Homo sapiens: one gene and its partner. The protein of the gene in region 1 purifies or fractionates together with the protein of each later gene. This does not show direct contact. Each region holds a gene or a part of one and is shown on either strand. Other genes may lie near its edges.

Region 1 (3,654 bases):
CAGAGCGATGAGAAGTGGTGGGTGGAACGGGAGAGTGATAAGAACAGGGTGGCTCTCATCTATCCATGCTAGAAGCTTCTTTGTATCTTTGTATCTCCTTGTATCTTGTATCTTAAAGAGGAAAAGCTGAAAAGATCAACGAGAAAGGCATAGAGTTACTCCTGAGCGACGGGGGCAAGCACCAGGTGAACAAGATAGTCGGCAGACTCTTGTCCAGAAATGCTCAGGCTTTTCAAATTCCCGAGTCACAGATGAATCCAGGGGTGCAAGGGGAGGGAGGTAAGTTAGAAAAATATGCCATCAGGTCTAGAGGTAAAACCAGAGTGAGACAGAATGGCGACTGATTAACACCAGTGAGGAAGAAGGAAAATCATCCAGGAGACGTCAAACCCTGTCCTGGGCATTTTCGCTCACTTCCTAGTGGCAGCCCACATGAGCCCCCTCAGCCTAAACCCTACATTCCCATCCGTAAAATCTACAAATGCCGTGCCTGTCACTCTGGGGTTCATCAGCCCAGCAGAATGACCGTCCCAGATCAAGCACCATATACTTTTCAAAGCCAGATCAGAATTTTCCTTCAGGAAATGGGCCCAGGAATCTCATTCCACAATACGCTGGAGGGACTGGGGGCTGAGGGGATGCAGTGGCCATAAAGGTCAGCAATGGTGTCACCTAGAAGGGGCCCATCCACCCATCAGGACACAGCTGGAGCTGCTTAGAGTGCCAATAACAGACAAGGCAACAGGTACTGAGGGGCAGGAGATACTTGGCCTTCACCCTTCCTGCCTCCAGGTGGGGGGCCCACTCTAGGTAACCCTTTTGGCCTCTCACCCTGCTCCTCACTCACACCTCACCCTGGGAGAAAGAGTGAGTTTGAAAGAAGGAACTGGGCATGATCTGCTCAGCCAGTCTCTGCCTCTCTCTCCTTGGGGCCCAGCCAAACCCCAGGGAGCCATGGCTTCGAGCCCTGTCCACGCCTCAGTGGGCATCACATCTGAAGTGCGTCTTGAAGGGTAAGTCTGCCCAGGGAGCAAGATAGAAGGCAGGGCATCTCAAGTAGTGGGGACACAGATACGAAAGCACAGAGGTGCAAAAGCCATGGTGTCTTTGAGGAACAGAAGGTGGGCCACTGCAGGAAGCACAGGCATGAAACTCCATATGGAGAGAGTGTGGGGAGAGTGACAGTATTTCATGTAAAGACCTGCAATGGGTTCCTGTGGGAGTAACAGGCAGACAGTGACCAGGGAGTCAAGGTGTTAGCACACCTACACCAGGGCATCCTGCCCAAACCACACAGGGCAGATGGTCTGCTCTAAGCCATGGGGCTGGCCCTAGAAATGAAGCTGGGAGATGGGCCATCTGCTCCCTGAGGCATTAGTGCAAAAGGCCACGCAGATCCTGGGCATCATTGGGAAGATGAGGGAAAATAAAAATAGAAATCCTCCCTCTGCCGACAATGAAGCTCGCTGAATGCTACCCGTAACCGCCTGTAGTTTAAAACCACAACAAATCCAAACCGGATTGGCTGCTTGGCAGAGCTGTGGTCAAGAACGATGTGGTCATGCATACAGCGTGATCCCATTTATATGAAATGTCCAGAATAGACAAATCCATAGAGACAGAAAAATCAGTGGTTGCCAGGGACTATGGTGGTTGGAGAGAAACTGGCGGTGATTGCTAATGGGAATGGGGTTTATTTTGAGGTGATAGAAATATTGATGAAATTAGAAATTGGCGGTGATTGCTAATGGGAATGGGGTTTATTTTGAGGTGATAGAAATATTGATGAAATTAGAAATTGGCGGTGATTGCTAATGGGAATGGGGTTTATTTTGAGGTGATAGAAATATTGATGAAATTAGAAATTGGCGGTGATTGCTAATGGGAATGGGGTTTATTTTGAGGTGATAGAAATATTGATGAAATTAGAAACTGGCGGTGATTGCTAATGGGAATGGGGTTTATTTTGAGGTGATAGAAATATTGATGAAATTAGAAATTGGCGGTGATTGCTAATGGGAATGGGGTTTATTTTGAGGTGATAGAAATATTGATGAAATTAGAAACTGGCGGTGATTGCTAATGGGAATGGGGTTTATTTTGAGGTGATAGAAATATTGATGAAATTAGAAACTGGCGGTGATTGCTAATGGGAATGGGGTTTATTTTGAGGTGATAGAAATATTGATGAAATTAGAAATTGGCGGTGATTGCTAATGGGAATGGGGTTTATTTTGAGGTGATAGAAATATTGATGAAATTAGAAATTGGCGGTGATTGCTAATGGGAATGGGGTTTATTTTGAGGTGATAGAAATATTGATGAAATTAGAAATTGGCGGTGATTGCTAATGGGAATGGGGTTTATTTTGAGGTGATAGAAATATTGATGAAATTAGAAATTGGCGGTGATTGCTAATGGGAATGGGGTTTATTTTGAGGTGATAGAAATATTGATGAAATTAGAAATTGGCGGTGATTGCTAATGGGAATGGGGTTTATTTTGAGGTGATAGAAATATTGATGAAATTAGAAATTGGCGGTGATTGCTAATGGGAATGGGGTTTATTTTGAGGTGATAGAAATATTGATGAAATTAGAAATTGGCGGTGATTGCTAATGGGAATGGGGTTTATTTTGAGGTGATAGAAATATTTATGAAATTAGATAGTGGTAATGGTTGCAAAATTCTGTGACTAAACTAACAATCATCTAATTGTACACTTTTGATAGGTGAATTATATGGTATGTAAGTTACATTGCAATAAAGCTGCTGTATTAAAAAAAAAAAAGAAAGAAAAGAAAAAAGGAGCGATCATCGTGCCTGCTCTGAGCTCCAGCCCCACACAGCACCTTGGCCAGCTCACAATAGGCTGCATGTTTGCATAGACACAGTCCCGAGAAGGATAGTTAAGACAATGGGAGATCGACGCCCTGAAGTGTAGATCACAAAGATGAAGCCACTGGGCTTGGAGGGTAGAAGCTGGGAGGGTTGGGATTAAGCACTTGAGAATGAGCTCAGACGGCCTGCGGGGGCTCCTGGGAGACACCTGGGCTGGGGAGGAGCTCAGCAAAAGGCTTCTCATCATCATCCTCCACAGCAGGAAGTAGATGGCTTCTGGGGCCTGAAGTCGAGGTTGGCCACAAGCCCTCTGGTGACTCACTCAGGAGGAAGCGAGGAAGGATAAAGAGTTGTTTCTCCCCCAAAAGAGGCAAGTAAGTCAGAAAGAAGCCCTGTGCTCCAACTCCTGGAAGATGGGAGCCAGAGGAAAAGAAGCAGCCAAAGGAGCTGCCAGGCTGAAGCTGGGAAAGGACAGCACAGGCAGGAGGCCCCACAGGACAGGCCCTCATGGGAAACTGCTCCCGCCTGGCCCCCAACAGCCTCGTGGAGCAGTCAAGGTGAGTAGCTGCTGGGGATGAGGGTCTGCAAGTGGGCTCAAATGAGGCTTTGCTGGGAAGGAGAGAGCAGACGGATGCTGGGAGACCCCCAGCCACTCCTCCCTCCAAGAGGCACCCCAGAGCCCTGGTTTCCCTGAGTGTGGAGCTGGTGGGGTACCCCCAGGGCTGCTCGTGGCCACCCGCTCACCGGTCCTGGAGCCGGTCCTGTGTGTCCTTCAGCCGGGCTTTCAGGTGCCGGATGCACACCTCCTTCTGC
Region 2 (3,654 bases), on another chromosome or scaffold:
GAGTATAGGTGTTAACTTTGAAATCGTATCAGAAAAAGTATATGATATTTGATTTATACATTTTAATTTCTACGGAGCATATTTTATTTAAATTTATTGAACTTGAAGCAATTTTCGTTCTTTTCAGCCTTCACCTTCAGCCTATACCAGAAGTTCCCAGACATACAAGAGCTTTGTGTTCTTACATAAGTGCTACTAACCTAAAGCCACATTTCAAAAGCGGTTTGCCTATAAGAAATTAGGGAAGTCATCACAGTGTGTTATTATCCTAACCTATGGTCATGTATCTTTTTATGTGCCTCAGATGCATGATGGAGTTGGTGGAAGGCAGGAGATTAGTAGAGAACTTCGAAAGAACAGAAGGATCATTTGCATTGGACAGTAGTGTTTCACAATAGAAATTGATGTCTGGGAGAATGCCCCTCAAGCTTTCCCTTTTTCACTTTAAAGAAGCTTGTTTGCTTCCTCTCACTTCCATAACGTCTATATTGGATAAAACACTAGTGGTTATTATAACAAAAATAAACTTTGCAGTTGGAGGAACACTAATATCTGAGACAGTAGAAATGACATGAGTAAAGAAGGGCTGCTTCAGACCATTATTAACTGGTGACTTGATGTTTTTCTTTTGGCTTGCTGATGGCGATCCATGTCCCTATTTCAGACCACACTTTTCCCATCAGTGATACTCTTACACTAATAAACATATCCCAAGGGCAAACAGGTACACTAAAATGAGCTTATTCCTATCTTTCAAGACCATGATGAAAACTATCCTAATGAGTCTTCACTGATTACTAAAACCAGATGGCCAGTCAGCATCTGAATTCCTAAATCATTCTGTATTATTCATGAGACAGCATATTTCCTTAAGTATTAATGTTTGGGTCTGTAACTTTTTTTTTTCCACTCCTCTCAGCTCATACCTATGGGTACATATTCTTAATACTATGTTTTTAAACTGCATGGGGTAATGGGACTTACTAATAACTAATAATTCTTTTTTTTTTTTTTTTTGAGACAGAGTCTCGCTCTGTCAGTGGTGCGATCTCCGCTCACTACAACCTCTGCCTCCCAGGTTCAAGCGATTCTTATGCCTCAGCCTCCCAAGTAGCTGGGACTACAGGTGTGTGCCACCATGCCCGGCTAATTTTTGTATTTTTAGTAGTGACAGGTTTTTGCCACGTTGGCCAGGCTGGTCTCGAACTCCTGGCCTCAAGTGATCCACCCACCTCAGCCTCCCAAAGTACTGGGATTACAGGTGTGAACCACTGTGCCCAGCCTCTAATGACTCTTAAATTCCCTGAATGCATCTGTGTCATTACCCCCATTCCCACCCCCACTACTGGGATGTCTAGCAAAATTCCTTGCACATCGTTTTTGAATAAATCATACATTATTGGATTTTTTGTTTTCAAACATTTTAATTAATCATTAGAATGACATCTTAGCTGGAAGTGAAACCTTCCATCTGTGCTCCTCTGTACTGCTACCTCCCTACTCTGGCCCTCTACTTCCCGCTGGCCTGTTAGTCAGGAACTACAGCGTTAATTGAAATTGAGTGATCTGCTAAGGTTAATCTGACTTTTCTGGTTTTCTAAGGTTATCAGTGACAGGGGTTAGGCTTGGACTGCTAAGATTATTCTCTGCCACAGGAGATAACCTGGTATGAAATTGGACTGGTGTGTTTTCTTACATGTGTCTTCCTATTTTTCTGATTCAATTCCTTTCCCTTTTTAAAACCCACTGACTCTTAAAAAAACCTACAATCTTTCTGTCGTGTAGCTAGTTTGGTTTTTTTTTTCTTTTAGCTGTGCTGTTAACAGTTCTGTAGTAGCTGTGACTACCCTTTGGGGACTGGGGAAGAAATGGGAAATGTTGAACATTTGGAAGCTGCAGCTAATATGGGATTGTTCTTTGGGGGCGGGTCTCTTAGTCACAGTACTGTGACTGTATTGATACATGTAATCTGAAGAGAATCTTAGAATATTTCCACCAGAAAGGTTTTTGGAGATAAACTAGTTTTCATTTTTATAAATGTGGAAACTTGAGTCCCAGATCACCATAAGTGACTTATCTAGATTCATACAACTTGTCAATGGCAGCCAGGAACCTGACATGCTTAGCATAGAAATCAGACTATCAAGAACTATGACAGTAAAGGAGGAATTCTCTGTTATTTTGGAACCGTATACCGCTTTTTACAGCCCAGTCAAGATGTAGGAAATTGCTTCTTACTTCGGAGAAAGGCACCAGCGAGCAGTGTTACAGAGCTTGATTAGAATGATCCCTGGTAAGAAGTGCTATGTTACTACAAGTTCACCAAACCTAAAATTGTGGGAGGAAAGTATTCTTGTTTCTTAGTTAAGTATTGGTGTAAAGAGTTCCTTTTAACATCTGAAATCAAGAGGCAATTGAAGATTTCAAAGGACCCATCAGGAATTTTGGAGTTCAGGGCAGGCAAAGAAAATCTTTAGAAAAGATTTTAAATGGCCTAATTCTTTATATGCTTTGCCACATTTTTCTTCTGCTAGTTCATCTTTACACGTCACTATATAGGCTTCTGGAGAATAGCATGTGTAAATTTAAGTAATAAAGATGAACCATGTGGCAATACAGTTGTTCTTTAGGTACAATTATGTGATTGATTATGGGGGTGGGATGGAATAGGGGCATTTGTGACCTAATAGTTCCCTTTTCCCTGAGGACTAGGACGATAATGTTTCTGTATATGGATTTGTTAGGGCTTAATAGTTTTCCAAGTGCTTCAAGACATGTTAGCTAATTGGATCTTCACAGGAACTCTATGAGGTAAGCAGGATAGAAAGGTGGCAGATTATTGGTTTATAGGTGAAGAATCTGAGGTTGGATTATTTGCCAAGATCACATGGTTAATAAGGAGCATAGCCTGGGCCAAAGCCCGAATCCCTTCACTCCCAGCTCTCTAAGTGCTGCTGACAGATGTTTGCTGATTATGGTGTGAAGTTGTATACTTTAGTATTTCTTTCTGAGACATACAAACCCCTGTAGTAAAATTCTTTCCACTACTACCAAAGAAGCTCAAAAAACTTAAAATAGGCACTTATTGCTTCCAAAAGTACCACAGAAAGCCAGGAATCTGTATTCATTGCCTAGCCACTTGATTCTTATGACAAAGATTTTGAAACTCTGGGGAAAGGCTATGTGTCAACTTGTTTTATGTGTCATGATTGTTAAAATGCTAGAGAAAACAGCAAAGAGCCAGTTAAATCTGTGTCTGCTCAAATAAGACAAGGGGCAAGAGTGTGGAAAATCCAGAACAAGATTCCCTGAGAGATCATCTAGACCCCGTTCTTTCTAGTCAGAAGTATAGTTGTGATTAATATGACATTAATCTTTTGCAAAGTTTAATTCTTGGATTCAGCCATCTGCTTTAATTTTAACACATCTGTTTTGTAACCTAAAATAATTTTAAGGTGTTTGTTTATTTGTTTGTTTGTTTTGAGATTACGATTCTTAAGAATAGATACAAGTTTTAAACCTTGGATAAAACTAATTTTTATTCTTCTGGTTCAGTTGTAGAACAAATACAGGTTAAGTTGTCTTCCAGCTCTTTTAGATAAAGCAATATTAGTGGTTTTATAGTGCTAAGTGAAAAGAGACATTAGAATTTCA

What was found. Proteins that work in one complex are often made in the same cells at the same time.
Region 2: the proteins of SNPH (region 1) and KIF2A purify together in Homo sapiens (affinity purification with western blotting, with the first as the bait; one study listed by BioGRID). This does not show direct contact.

What each region holds. Positions count from the first base shown.
Region 1 is NC_000020.11:1,300,643-1,304,296, reverse strand, and holds part of SNPH (syntaphilin), read right to left. Parts: coding exon 3,586-3,654; intron 1-3,585. UniProt on the Homo sapiens protein: Inhibits SNARE complex formation by absorbing free STX1A.
Region 2 is NC_000005.10:62,309,071-62,312,724, forward strand, and holds part of KIF2A (kinesin-like protein KIF2A), read left to right. Parts: intron 1-3,654. UniProt on the Homo sapiens protein: Plus end-directed microtubule-dependent motor required for normal brain development. May regulate microtubule dynamics during axonal growth. Required for normal progression through mitosis. Required for normal congress of chromosomes at the metaphase plate.